Homo sapiens: one gene and its partners. The protein of the gene in region 1 purifies or fractionates together with the protein of each later gene. This does not show direct contact. Each region holds a gene or a part of one and is shown on either strand. Other genes may lie near its edges.

Evidence for each region.
Region 2: the proteins of MBD4 (region 1) and A2ML1 purify together in Homo sapiens (affinity purification with mass spectrometry; one large-scale study listed by BioGRID and IntAct). This does not show direct contact.
Region 3: the proteins of MBD4 (region 1) and RWDD3 purify together in Homo sapiens (affinity purification with mass spectrometry, with the first as the bait; one large-scale study listed by BioGRID). This does not show direct contact.
Region 4: the proteins of MBD4 (region 1) and ACP3 purify together in Homo sapiens (affinity purification with mass spectrometry; one large-scale study listed by BioGRID and IntAct). This does not show direct contact.

The regions. Positions count from the first base shown.
Region 1 is NC_000003.12:129,430,447-129,433,697, reverse strand, and holds the end of MBD4 (methyl-CpG-binding domain protein 4), read left to right. Parts: intron 1-450; coding exon 451-600; intron 601-1,091; coding exon 1,092-1,195; coding exon of another isoform or gene 1,196-1,249; exon of another isoform or gene 1,250-1,522; intron 1,523-2,119; coding exon 2,120-2,197; 3' UTR 2,198-2,751; downstream 2,752-3,251. UniProt on the Homo sapiens protein: Mismatch-specific DNA N-glycosylase involved in DNA repair. Has thymine glycosylase activity and is specific for G:T mismatches within methylated and unmethylated CpG sites. Can also remove uracil or 5-fluorouracil in G:U mismatches. Has no lyase activity.
Region 2 is NC_000012.12:8,829,121-8,832,620, forward strand, and holds part of A2ML1 (alpha-2-macroglobulin-like protein 1 isoform 1 precursor), read left to right. Parts: intron 1-606; coding exon 607-659; intron 660-1,541; exon of another isoform or gene 1,542-2,186; intron 2,187-3,500. UniProt on the Homo sapiens protein: Is able to inhibit all four classes of proteinases by a unique 'trapping' mechanism. This protein has a peptide stretch, called the 'bait region' which contains specific cleavage sites for different proteinases.
Region 3 is NC_000001.11:95,240,710-95,244,209, forward strand, and holds part of RWDD3 (RWD domain-containing protein 3), read left to right. Parts: intron 1-3,500. UniProt on the Homo sapiens protein: Enhancer of SUMO conjugation.
Region 4 is NC_000003.12:132,341,407-132,344,906, forward strand, and holds part of ACP3 (prostatic acid phosphatase isoform PAP precursor), read left to right. Parts: intron 1-1,145; coding exon 1,146-1,238; intron 1,239-3,500. UniProt on the Homo sapiens protein: A non-specific tyrosine phosphatase that dephosphorylates a diverse number of substrates under acidic conditions (pH 4-6) including alkyl, aryl, and acyl orthophosphate monoesters and phosphorylated proteins.

The DNA of each region.
Region 1 (3,251 bases):
GAGACTGGATGACATCCAACAGACCTTTTAGAATAAAGAGGTAGATTTTATTTATTTTATACTTCCAAATTCTTTTTGATCATCAGTGAAAATCAGTTAACGTTTCTCCACCCTCTTTCATGTGTGTTTAAAAGTATCTTTTTCACTGAATGTACCTTGTGTTCTATATGCTTCTACTCTCATTATCTGCTGATCTGATCATTTAAAAGCTAATCATGCAAGGCCAGTTTTCAGCATAATTTGGACTATTAGCCCAATATATTAGCAGTTTTGGCATTTGATTCTGAAAGTGGTTGCTGGTTCAGATAATGGCTTCTCACCAGTGTTTTTTTGTTTTTTGTTTTCTTTAAAAAAAAAAACCCTCTGGATGAGATTTCTATGAGAAACTACTTGAACATGAAATCAGCCCACCTGGAGTCTTGTAATCATTCAGTTACTTTTACTTCCCAGGCAAAATGGCAATACCTGTGCTTTGGAAGTTTCTGGAGAAGTATCCTTCAGCTGAGGTAGCAAGAACCGCAGACTGGAGAGATGTGTCAGAACTTCTTAAACCTCTTGGTCTCTACGATCTTCGGGCAAAAACCATTGTCAAGTTCTCAGGTATTTTCCTATACACCCAAAGGAAAAACATAATACATTGTGCTTATTTAAGAGAGCCACACCTTAAACTTTAATGTTCTCAGATACTATATTAATGGAGGTTTTTCAGCTCAAGCACCCAAGGCATTTAAAAAAGTCCACTTTCCCCAAACCACAGTCTCCCACTGACCTAAACAATAAATCTTTGCCCAGCACTGGGTCAGGCATGTGGGCAGAATTAGGGGAAGAAGTCAGTGAAGCAGAAAGCCCAGTTCTTGACCTCAAGGACATGACTTCTGTCTTGTTAGCACAGCACAAAAGAGTGGTTAGGAATTGGCAAATGATATGGGTGCTGCAGGAATTCAGAAGGAAGAGTAATCACAACTGGGGTTGCTGGGAAAGAGCCTTTCCTGTCCCTTTCTGCTGTTCTCTCCATCCTGCCCCATCACCACACATTTTGGGAGGGTGTCTTTAGAAGCTGACCTGATAATGTGGGATGTTGTATTCTTCAGATGAATACCTGACAAAGCAGTGGAAGTATCCAATTGAGCTTCATGGGATTGGTAAATATGGCAACGACTCTTACCGAATTTTTTGTGTCAATGAGTGGAAGCAGGTGAGGCTCACTCCCATCCATAATTCAGCACATTTGGTCTCTGAGGCAAAATAAGTCCACCATTATGGTTAAGACTATTTATTGGATACAAATGCTATTACAGTCACAAACAATTGTGTTCCTGGCTGCGGGGAAGCGGGTGGCATGTGGGTTTTGGGGTTTTTGATCAGTAGGCGCTCCCAAGTCCACAAAGACCAGTCCAGCGGCGTGGCCTCTGACTCATCTCCAGTGGTTTGTCACCTCTGGCCCTGTTCCTGTCATTCCCTATTTGTGTGCTATCTCTAAGCCTGACGTGGTTTTCCTCCTGTCAAAAGTACACCACTACAGGAAAGCAGGAAGGTTTGGGCCTGCAATGTATGCATATTGGGTTTCTCTTAGTGGTCTCAGACTACGTTTGTGGTGACTGGGTCCTGCTTCAGCCCTGTTGAATATGCCCAGCCTGTGGCATGCTGGTGGTCATCCTGGCAGCTGGTGGGTGGCCTGGTATGCTGCCCACTCAGCTTGAGACTCACCCTCATGCATTCAGCCAGTAGGTCTGGCCAAGCCTGAACTGAAGGACCATGGTCCTATCCCAGCTTCATCAGAGCAATCCATTGTGACCTGAGAATCCATTTAACCTCTCGGTCTAGAACCTCCTTCTGGAAAGTGAGGTATTAATACTTGACTCATGTTATCGCCACCCCACATTCTAAGTCATGGTTGAGTAGTAATTTGGACAGTACCTTGTAAATTGTGTGAGATTACCTTAATATAAGGTATAACTTAAAATATTCATGAATCCCAGGAGGTTAAAGGTTATAACTTTTAGGTATGGTATCGTAATGTACTGTCCCCCAGCAAACATTTAAAAAGCCAATTTTAAAAAATGTATTTCTGACTAAGTTACATTAAGGTCTCTGCCTCTGTATCTTATGTTTCTTCCAGGTGCACCCTGAAGACCACAAATTAAATAAATATCATGACTGGCTTTGGGAAAATCATGAAAAATTAAGTCTATCTTAAACTCTGCAGCTTTCAAGCTCATCTGTTATGCATAGCTTTGCACTTCAAAAAAGCTTAATTAAGTACAACCAACCACCTTTCCAGCCATAGAGATTTTAATTAGCCCAACTAGAAGCCTAGTGTGTGTGCTTTCTTAATGTGTGTGCCAATGGTGGATCTTTGCTACTGAATGTGTTTGAACATGTTTTGAGATTTTTTTAAAATAAATTATTATTTGACAACAATCCAAAAAAAATACGGCTTTTCCAATGATGAAATATAATCAGAAGATGAAAAATAGTTCTAAACTATCAATAATACAAAGCAAATTTCTATCAGCCTTGCTAAAGCTAGGGGCCCACTAAATATTTTTATCGGCTAGGCGTGGTGGTGCATGCCTGTAATCTCGGAAGGCTGAGGCAGGAGGATCATTTGAGCTCATGAGGGCCCAGGAGGTCAAGGCTTCAGTGAGCCATGATCATGCCACTGCACTCCAGTCTGGATGACAGAGAGAGACCCTGTCTCAAAAAATATATATTTAAAAAATAAAAATAAAAGCTGACCCCAAAGACAAATAAGATTCCTCTGGCATTGTGTATTGTTGACAGCTCCACACTAGCTCTTAGGAATTGTAGATTCCACCCCAGTATCCATTTGATAACCTAATGTGAATATGGGCCTGCTGCTCCATTTCAGCTCACTCACTCTTTTACCTTGGTCCCTTTGTGAAAACTCATTTCTCATCTTCCATTTGGAGTTTATACCATTTGGCCAGGCACAGTGGCTTACACCTGTAATCCTAGCACTTTGGGAGGCTGAGGCAGGAGGATTGCTTGAGCCCAGGAGTTCAAAACCAGACTGGGCAACATAATGAGACCCCGTCTCTACAAAAAATTTTAAAAATTAATTGGGCATGGTGACATACACTTGTGGTCCCAGCTACTCAGAAGGCTGAGGTGGGAGAATCCCTTGAGCCCAGGAGATTGAGGCTGCAGTGAGCTATGATCACACCACTGCACTTCAGCCTGGATGACACAGCAAGACCCTGTCTTAAAAAAAATAAGTCTTAATGCCA
Region 2 (3,500 bases), on another chromosome or scaffold:
TCTTCTGATTTTTGGTTCTTATGACAGTGCTGTTTTGCGTGGGCAGTTGTTCAGTTTGGTGTTACTGTGGGGGATGAGGAGGGTGGTCAATGGAGGCTTCTATTCTGCCTCTTGCTCTGCCTCCTGAGCTCCAGGCCTGTGTTTGGACTTTACCTTACTCTCAGAGCAGGTTTTGTAAAAAAGTAAAACCTGTTGGGGTTTTGCTGACTCAGAGCATGTGTGAGGAAGGAGGAGGGATAGAGGAAAGATTCTGAGCAGGAGGCGGAGCGCGGTGGCTCACGCCTATAATCCCAGCACTTTGGGAGGCCAAGGCAGGTGGATCACCTGAGGTCAGGAGTTCATAGACCAGCCTGGCCAACATGGTGAAACCCTGTCTCTACAAAAATTAGCCAAGTGTGGTGGCACCTGCCTGTGGTCCCAGCTACTCCGGAGGCTGGGGTGGGAGAATCACTTGAGCCCAGGAGTTTGAGGCTGAAGTGAGCCACGGTTGTGCCACTGCACTCCAACCTGGGTGACAGAGTGAGACCCTGTATCAAAAAAAAAAAAAAAAAAAAAATTCTGAGCCAGGAAACATCCCCTTTGCTAATGATGCCTGTTCCTTTCCAGTGTATTTCCGCATTGTCACCATGGATAGCAACTTCGTTCCAGTGAATGACAAGGTGAGTTGGGAGGAGGAGAAGGAGTGGCGCAGGGAGAACAGGGAAAAGGATGAGAGATTCTCTAGGGTGGAAGTCCTCTCAGCCTGGGCGTGGCAAGGCGAGGCCCTCTGGGTTGGAGACTGCTGTGTGCGTGGGACTGGAAGTGCTGGGCGAGCTTCAGGGAGCTAGCCTAAATCAGCCTAGGAACAAGCAGAGGTAACCAGTTCTCAGCTTCAGTATCTACACATTCATCAGGTTCTTGAGAGATGGTTATGCTCCTTGTCATTTTATTTTATTTATTTGTTTATTTAGAGACAGAGTCTCGCTCTGTGGCCCAGGCTGGAGTGCAATGGCGTGACCTCAGCTCACTACAACCTCTGCCTCCTGGGTTTAAGCAATTCTCCTGCCTCGGCCTCCCAAATAGTTGGAATTACAGGCGCGCACCATCACGCCTGGCTAATTTTTGTATTTTTAGTAAAAACAGGGTTACATCATGTTGGCCAAGCTGGTCTCAAACTCCTGACCTCAAGTGTTCCACCCACCTCGGCCTCCCAAAGTGCTGGGATTACAGACAAGAGCCACCATGCTCAGCCCCCTTTCATTTTAAGAGTTTTCGCAAACTTCAAGACCTTTTCTTCAGGACTGACAAAAGCATTTTTTTTTTTAAGGCAGAAAGGAGAATGTCCGCTTCCACTCTGTTTCTATGAGGCAAAATAATTTACAAAGTAGGTAATTCTCTTAGGGCAACATTAAATAAATACATGCCAAAGCTTAAAATGTAGCAACATTTTGCGAATATTTGATTTTTCCTTGGACTCCCCATCCCTAGAATCATAAGCCTTACCACAGGTTTGATTTCAAGTTGGAGCATGTGTCATTTCTACATGCTTCTGAGACACTTACCTCCCGGACACCCCTGCTTTCTTCCTCTTCCGTCTGTCCCAGCCTGTGTATTCAAATGAAACTTTTAGAGATAAACATAGAGAAAGCATGATTTCCATTTTCCATCTCCGTGTTCTCAGAGCTGCTGTTTCCTTTCCCTATGTGCAGGGGAGTTATTAGCTTGTTATGATTGGTAATGCCCTACCCGCTACTCTCTTTCCCAATATAGATTTCCTTTTACTTCCTCCTTCCCATCACCTATGGCTTTTCTTTGGTAGGTATAACGTTGAGTACTTCTTACTTTTTTTTTTTTTTTTTAACATTTTAAGACAAGGTCTCATTCTGTCACCTAGGCTGGAGTGCAGTGGCAGTCATGGCTCACTGCAGCTTTGACCCTGCCCCGGGCTCAAGTAATCTTCCCATCTCAGTCTCCCCAGTAGCTGGGACCACAGGTGTGCACTACCACACCTGGCTAATTATTTTATTTTTTTGTAGAGTTGTGGGGGGCGGGGGTCTCACCTTGTTGCGCAGGCCGGTCTTGAGCTCCTGGCCTCTCTCGCTTTGGTCTCCCAAAGTGTTGGGATTATAGGCCTGAGCCACTGCACCCGGCCTGAGTGCTTACTTCTTAACAGACTGTTTTCTCTAGAGCTGCAACAAGGAAGTGCTGGGTTCAAAGCGTGGCCCGCAGCAGCACTATTTTAGACTCACTTACCCTCAGGGTTGATCTCATTAACTACCCCTGTTACGATTCAAATGAAGCGGGATTACTTCCAGGTGTTCTGTTTTCTGCAGTTAGGCTCTTTCTCTTGTGAAATTACTCCTTCCTCCCCACTCTATTTCTCCAGCCAAACTCTCCCTCCAAATTCAGTTGAAACACTGAGATTAACAAAAGGAATTTTACCAAGAAAGCTAGGATAAAAATTGTGTTTATGTAACCACCCAATGGGTTCACCTTGCCTGCTGCTTAGACAGGGTTGATTTATCGAGACAGGGGAATTGCAATGAAGAAAGAGTAACTCACCCAGAGCCGGCTGTGTGGGAGACTGGAGTTTTACTGTTACTCAAATCAGTCTCCCTGAGCATTTGGAAATCGAGTTTTTTTTTGTTTTTGTTTTTGTTTTTTTTTGAGACGGAGTTTCATTCTTGTTGCCCAGGCTGGAGTGCAATGGCGCGATCTCGGCTCGCCGCAACCTCTGCCTCCCAGGTTCAAGTGATTCTCCTGCCTCAGCCTCCCAAGTAGCTGGGATTACAGGCATGCGCCAACACGCCCGGCTAATTTTGGTACTTTTAGTAGAGACGGGGTTTCTTCATGTTGGTCAGGCTGTTCTTGAACTCCCGACCTCAAGTGATCCGCCCGCCTCGGCCTCCCAAAGTGCTGGGATTACAGGCGTGAGCCACCGCGCCTGGCCAGGAAATCGAGTTTTTAAAGATAATTTGGCAGGTAGGGGCTTGGGAAGTGGGGAGTGCTGATTGGTCAGGTTGGAGATGGAGTCATAGATGGTCAAAGTGAGGTTTTCTTGCTGTTTTCCTCCTCCTGGGTGGGATGGCAGAACTGGTTGAGCCAGATTACTGGTCTGGGTGGTGTCAGCTGATCCACTGAATGCAGGGTCTGCAGAACATCTCAGGCGCTGATCTTGGGTTTTACAACAGTGATGTTCTCCCCAGGAGCAATTTGAAGAGGTTCAGACTCTTGGAGTCAGAGGCTGCATGACCCCTAAAGTGTAATTTCTAATCTTGTAGCTAATTTGTTAGTCCTGCAAAGGCAGACTGGTCCCCGGGCAAGAAGGGGGTCTTTTTGGGAAAGGGCTGTTATCAATTTTGTTTCAGAGTCAAACCATGAACTGAATTCCTTCCCAAAGTTAGTCTGGCTTACACCCAGGAATCCACAAGGACAGCTTACAAGTTAGAAGCAAGATGGAGTCGGTTAGGTCTGACATCTTTCACTTTCATAGTTTCCTCAGTTATAATTTTGCAAAGGCG
Region 3 (3,500 bases), on another chromosome or scaffold:
GTGTGGGGAGAGGCAGGCGGCGAGGAGACCACTATTGCAGAAGCCAGAGAAAGGCCTGAATTAGGAGGGTGGAAGGGAGAGAAATTCTGGAGGACTTGTGGGATTTGGCAGTTGAATGCTAAGTATGAAAGAAGGAGGGAAAAAAAAAAGTTGAAGGCAGCTTTAAGATTTTATGCCTAGGCTAGGTGTGGTGGCTTACACCTGTAATCCCAGCACTTTGGGAGGCTGAGGCGGGTGGATCACCTGAGGTCAAGAGTTTGAGACCAGCCTGAACACTGCAGTGAGCCATGATCACCCTGCTGCACTCTAGCATGGGTGACAGAGTGAGACTCAATCTCAAAAAGCAAACAAAAACAAAAAACAAGCACAAGACCAGTGATAGAGTTTCCTGTGGAAGGGAGGAAGACACTTCTTTCTCAGATAAAACAGTGAAAAAGAGCAAGATGATTAAAAAAAAAAGTATAATCAAGTGGCCCAGCAGTTCCTAGGCAGCAATGACAACTGCAGTTCCTTGGTCACTAACACACTTCCATGGATTCAGCCAGTAAGGAGACAGTGAACCCAGATGGATTTGGACAGTTACTGCTTAATGCACAGCAGGCAGCATTAGCTTCATGTTCACATTGATTCTCCTTGTCCCCCAAGTTCAATGGGGTGATGTAGAGGTAGGCTGAGGTGCATACAATGCACTCAGTGGGTCTTTGTTATAGCTGAGGGGCAGTGAGCTTAGGAACCCTCCGGTATTATGAGGGAGCTGCTAGTGATCCTGCTCAATCTTTGTCCTGAAGGAATATGTTACCTTATATTGCTTAGGAAACAAATCTGCCCCCTGACCTGGAGGGATAAACTCTAGCTTCCAAGGCTGTCGGTTATGCAAAAGTCCTTGAACAAAGATATTAATGCCCTTTGCTCAGAAGGCATTCAGAAATGCCAGATTGTGGGCATCCGACCCGCAGACACTGACCTAGTGATGGATGAGAGACGTACACTGACACAGACATTTTGCTTGTCAGTGTGGCTAAAGGGGTTCTGCTCCTGAATCTGCAGTGTAGGCCATGATAAGCCGGTGAAGTTCACATTTATTTAGTACAGATTAAATGACAAGGGTCATGAGTAAACACCACTAGAAGGTAATTAACATTGCCACCCCTCCCCACCCCCCCCAGGGGAGAGCAGTCATGCACCCACAGATAATCAAAGGTTGCTCTTAGGACCACATGAGTAAACAAGCTATTTAGGTAAACTCTCCCACATTCCCTTGTTATTTGCTCTTTTGCTATCAACTCGAGGTAAAGAGGATTCGGCTGCTTTCAGCCAAATCTTTTACTGAAGCTATGCACCACCACCCCCCAGCCTTCTAAGAAGGTTTGTGACTATTTCCTATAACTATCTTTACAATTTTTCCTCTGCAGTTTTTCCCACCACCCTGACTGAACTCCCACACCAGATCCCTGGAGAATTATCTACCAACACAGACATTTATGTTTATATAAATTATATGTACATGTATATGTACGCATATTTATGAATAAAGAAATGTTTAGGTGTAGAAGAGAAGTCAAGGAAGATCACTTGGGATATATCCCTGCTCTCGTGTTCTGAAACACTGGATTGAGTCAATATGATGGGATCTGTGTCTTACCTGTCATTTTCCCTCAGAGACTAGTACAGTGCCTTGAGCTTAGTAGGTGTTCAGTGAATGCTTGTTCAATGATGAATGATTGAAGATCTTTAAAAGTTCTCCTCCTTCTTGAAGAGAGAATGTCAACTCCCTAGATGATTATTAGAAAGTTTATTCAGCCTAAATGGTTGTGTGTTGTCTGCAGTTCTATTTGTAATGTCTGTTTTACATATTGAAATGTACTATTTTAACATAGGCAGCCTACTTTAACAATAAAGTATTTTTTTTTAAAAGGGTAAGTAGTTAGGCCGGGTGCGGTGGCTCATGCCTGTAATCCCAGCACTTTGGGAGGCCAAGGCGGGTGGTTCACCCGAGGTCAGGAGTTTGAGACCAGCCTGGCTAACATGGAGAAACCCTGTCTCTACTAAAAATACAAAAATTAGCTGGGCATGGTGGCATATGACTGTAATCCCAGCTACTCGGGAGGCTGAGGCAGGAGAATTGCTTGAACCTGGCAGGCGGAGGTTGCAGTGAGCCGAGATCATGCCACTGCACTCCAGCCTGGGCGACAGAGTGAGATTGTGTCTCAAAAAAAAAAAGAATAAGTAACTAGATAGAAGAAGAAGGGTTTTGAGAAACATGATGGGTTTTGGAGGAATGTACAAAGTTAGATTTGGAAAATTCTTCTTATGAAATACACATATAAATTGTATCATTTTAATATGGTCTTCTTAACGGTTAACTGTCTATGTTTCCAGATGATGTCCTAAAATAGTCGTTCCTTGCAGCTGGTACTGAAGAGTGTATGAAAGAAAAACTCTGTAACAGATGTGTCTGGTCCTGTATGAATCAATATCTGTAGCAATGGCTTTTATATATGTGGAATCAGAAGGCTCAGGAAACAATTTTAATGTTCTGTTAGGTTCTTTAAAATGGGGATACATTCAGGTCTCAGTTGTTGAGGCTGTTGAGCAGCAATCCAGGTATGAAAATGGGAAAGATTTGACTGCTTCTCTCATGCAGGGGAATAAAGCAAAGGCACGTGCAGAGGGAAGTAGGGGTAGAGAGAGGCAAGTTAGCTTCAGAGAGATTTATTTGCACCCAGTTCTGTTCTACTCAGCCTGACGTTTTATCATCTTTTTGAAAAGTGGCATGAAGTGGTGTGGAACACATCAGAGGGTGAAGCCAAGCAAATCTGAAAGAGAGCAGAGGATTTCATATGATATCCTATGTGTGCTTTCCCCTTCCTTCTTAGGAGCTGGAAGAGGCAGAATTGATGTCCACTCAATTTCAGTTCATCTTGCCACCTTCATATTATACTGATACTAATATATGTGAAATAAGAAGAGAACATTCCAGGCAGTTACTATGTCACATGCAGTCATCAGTTTCTCTGCAACCCTACAACCACAGGGGATTCCATTGCTTGCTTTGACTTGGACTTCTCATAAAATGACTTTCGTTGGATTTAGTGTACAATTTTTAAGTTAATTACTGATTTTGTATATATGTGGTATTGTATCTTTGAAAGCTCATATGAGTTTATTAGGGATTTTCAGAATTATCAACTAAATCTGGCTAGAAAAAAAATTATCTGATGAAAAACCTTTCTGGTAACTTAATAAAAATGGGGTGATAGCAAGTGTAAATGCCAGTTAAATCCTGGGTGCTGGTGTGTGTGAATACATGAATACATGTGTATGGTTGAAGGAAATAATTTGTAAATCATAGCTTTCCTAGTATTACGTGTCCCTTCATAAAATAGCTCAGAGTTTTCTCATGAAAAATAAATTGACATTTGAGACAAAAGTTTGAACTTGCTGGTGTTCCATTCAAATTGAATAATGTACAGCTAATGATTATTTTTGGATGCCTTCCA
Region 4 (3,500 bases), 2.9 Mb from region 1:
ATTAATTACAATGATTGATTACATTCATAGATTTACCAATGTTGAACAATCTTTATATTTCTCAAATCAAACCCATTTCCTTTTATGTGACATTGAATTACTTCCTGTTATTTTACTTACACCTTTTGCATTGATATTTACAAGTGGCATTGAACTAATAGTTTTATTTTGGGGGCAATCTTTGTCAGTATCAGTGTTACACTTAATTCATAAGAAGTTTTTGAAAGTTTTCTTTCATCTTCTATGCTCCAGAACAGTTAAAATAGCATTAGAATAATTTACTCTTGAAAAGCTTGGTAGAATTCCTCTATGACAGTCATCTGGCCCTGGAGCTTTTATGTTTGAGAAGATGGCAGTAGGAGCTCTTTAACAATAATTTCTATTATTTTATGAAAATCTATTGAGGTTAATATTGGCAAATTGTAGTTCCCTAGAAATTTCATCCATCAGACAGACAATATCTTCCAAAAAGGCTTCCCAGAAATGGCTGCCAATTTCAGCAGTCAGATAGCTGAACATTGGGTCTCATTATTGCGACATTCCAAGAAACATACAGAACCTAGCGAAAGATTTGCATTCCATCCAAGTTTTATATGTATAGCCAAAGACCAAGCCCTATTTGTGTTGCATGTTCCAGGATGCTTTGGCCTGAAATATGCTTTCCTTTCTCACCTGGGACATATTTACACATGAGTTATACTTTACCCACTTCTAAAAAGAATCTGAGGCAGTACACTTCAATCCAATTCCAGCACGAACCAGGAACATGTGGCAGTCAGCCAGCATCTATCTACATTTTAAATGTAATAATAAGGAATAATCAATTCGTGTTTGTAAAATTCTTTGGAATGACATTATCGTAACCAATATTACTGGTGCATTTTTCTGTGAAGAACAGCGGTTCTCAACAGGGGCGCATTTGCCTCACAAGGAACATTTGGCAATGTCGGGAGATATTCTGGGTTATACAAGTGGGAGATTAGGAATGCTACTGGCATCTAGTGGGCAGAGGCCAGGATACTGTGAAACATCCTATAATGCACAGGAGAGCTCCCTACAACAAACAATTGTCTGGCCCAAAATATCAATAATGCTGAAGCTGAGAAACCTGTGTAGGAATTTTTCTTTCTCTGTTTGTGTTTCAGGATTTTATAGCTACCTTGGGAAAACTTTCAGGATTACATGGCCAGGACCTTTTTGGAATTTGGAGTAAAGTCTACGACCCTTTATATTGTGAGGTAAAAGAAAAAAAAATCACAGGTTAACTTGCAATCTGATTTTATGATTTATGCTTATTTTGAAATAGATGAATATCTTTTCTTTCACTTCTTTATGAATGTATTACTTATACTTCTTTTGACATTGAAACGTAATTCACAACTTCCTTATATTAACTTGAAAATGCTGACTTCTCTTTTCTCTCTATTATTATTTATGTTTTCACCCTTTAGAAAATTACAAGCAAAATTGCTTTTCTTCTATGAGTTTCCACTTTAGTTTTTTCCCCCCTTGGATTCAGTAGGAGCTTATTTATTTTGCAGCCACTCAAAAATGCTGGGTTCCTGTCCTTGGTCTTAATGAAAAAACAATGTTGTTATAAAGAAAGAGGGGAAAATTACCTGATTTCCGAATGTAGAAATAAACAAGCAAAATATAAGCCAGGCTATTTATATTTGCTTAACAAGAAAGAACTTCTTTCTTGCTTTGCGATGCATTTGAAATACCGTTTGTGGCCAGATAAATTACGATTGCTTTTCAAGGTTACATGGTGTTTCTCACTCACCATGCTCCACCTTCTGGCCAAAAGGAGTACTCTCTGTTCCTGTTTTCCCAACTAGCTCACTAAATATGGGGCAAGATTCTGACCACCCACCTAATTCATATTGACTTCTAACTTTGAGGTCATCGTGAGAGTCTGGGGGGCAGCAATTACTTCCGTAGTTCTATCTTAATAACAGATGACACAGTTTGCCTCCATCCATCCTAAAGTTAATTGACCCAATCACATGCTACTTTCCCAGTATTTTCACTTAATCATCAGCAACTATTTCAGTGAAAATTCATTAGCATTGTAAAAGACTCTTCAGTGAAAACAAGAGCCCCCATTTTTGTTCCAGTCATAATTTTTTTTTCTTCCTTACTACAGTTTGATCTGAGCTATTCCAAAATGTGGTCATGTCATGTGATATTTTTTCCAAATCTCTCTCACTTATTTCCTCTGTAGGTCACTCCACTTTGGTCTCCTCTTTCACGAACTCACTTTCTCTCACTCTTAATCCTGCCTTTGAAACTGGGGGACTCCTAATCAACTCTTCCTAACGGGTAATAAATATTGGCACAAGGTCTCACCTGCCCTGCTTGTACTTAACCATTCATTTAACGCATATTTACCAAGTATCCACTGTGTGCAAGGTGCAGGCTTTCCTCAAGAGTCAGTGAACTACAGCCAGGTATGGTGGCTCCTGCCTGTAATCCCAGCACTTCTGGGAGGCTGAGATGGGAGGATCATTTGAGGCTAGAAGTTCAGGATGAGCCTGGGCAGCATAATGAGGCCCTACCTCTACAAAACACTTTTAAAAATTAGCCACGTGTGGCCAGGTGTAGTGGCTCATGCCTATAATCCCAGCACTTTGGGCTAAGGTGGGCGGATTGCCTGAGCTCAGGAGTTCGAGACCAGCCTGGCCAACATGGCGAAATTTCATCTCTACTAAAAATACAAAAATTAGGCGGGTGTGGTGGCGCATGCCTGTAATCCCAGCTACTCGGGAGGCTGAGGCAAGAGAATCGCTTGAACCCAGGAAGTGGAGGTTGCAGTGAGCTGAAATCGTGCCACTGCACTCCAGGCTGGATGACAGAGCAAGATTCTGTCTCAAAAAAAAAAAAAAAAAAAAGTGCCACGTGTGGTGGCATGCACCTATAGTCCCAACTACTCAGGAGGCTGAGGTAGGAGGATTGCTTGAGTCCTGGAGTTTGAGGTTACAGTGAGCTGTGATGGCCACTGCATTCCAGCCTTGGTGACAGAGCAAGACAATGTCTCTGAAAAAAAAAAAAGAAAAAAAAAGTCAGCAAACTAGACCTTGATGGGGGTAGGGGAGAATATATTACTGAAGGCTCCAGAAATATATTGCCTTTCCTAACTGGCCTCTCAGGCAGCCCATTCAGCTTTTAAGGAAATATCATTTAACTCTGTCAGGTTCATAGAAAGATTTCTAACCCTTTCATAAAGGAATGAGGTATTATTTCCCTACTGCACCCTTACTCTGCAAAATATGAGCCACCCACTGATCCAGAGTTAAACCAAAAGCTATGGACTGGGTAGGAATGGGTAAATTCATTTATATAAGCTTTTCTTCTGAAAGTCAATACCACTACTTATCACAATATGAAGTTCTTTTAGAAAGAAATGGCAGGACAAGAAAGTCTGGCCCTACTAGTTCTTGTGAGGTGAAAAAGGATAAGTCAACAAAGAGGACAGTCATATAAATACACATACATTTTTC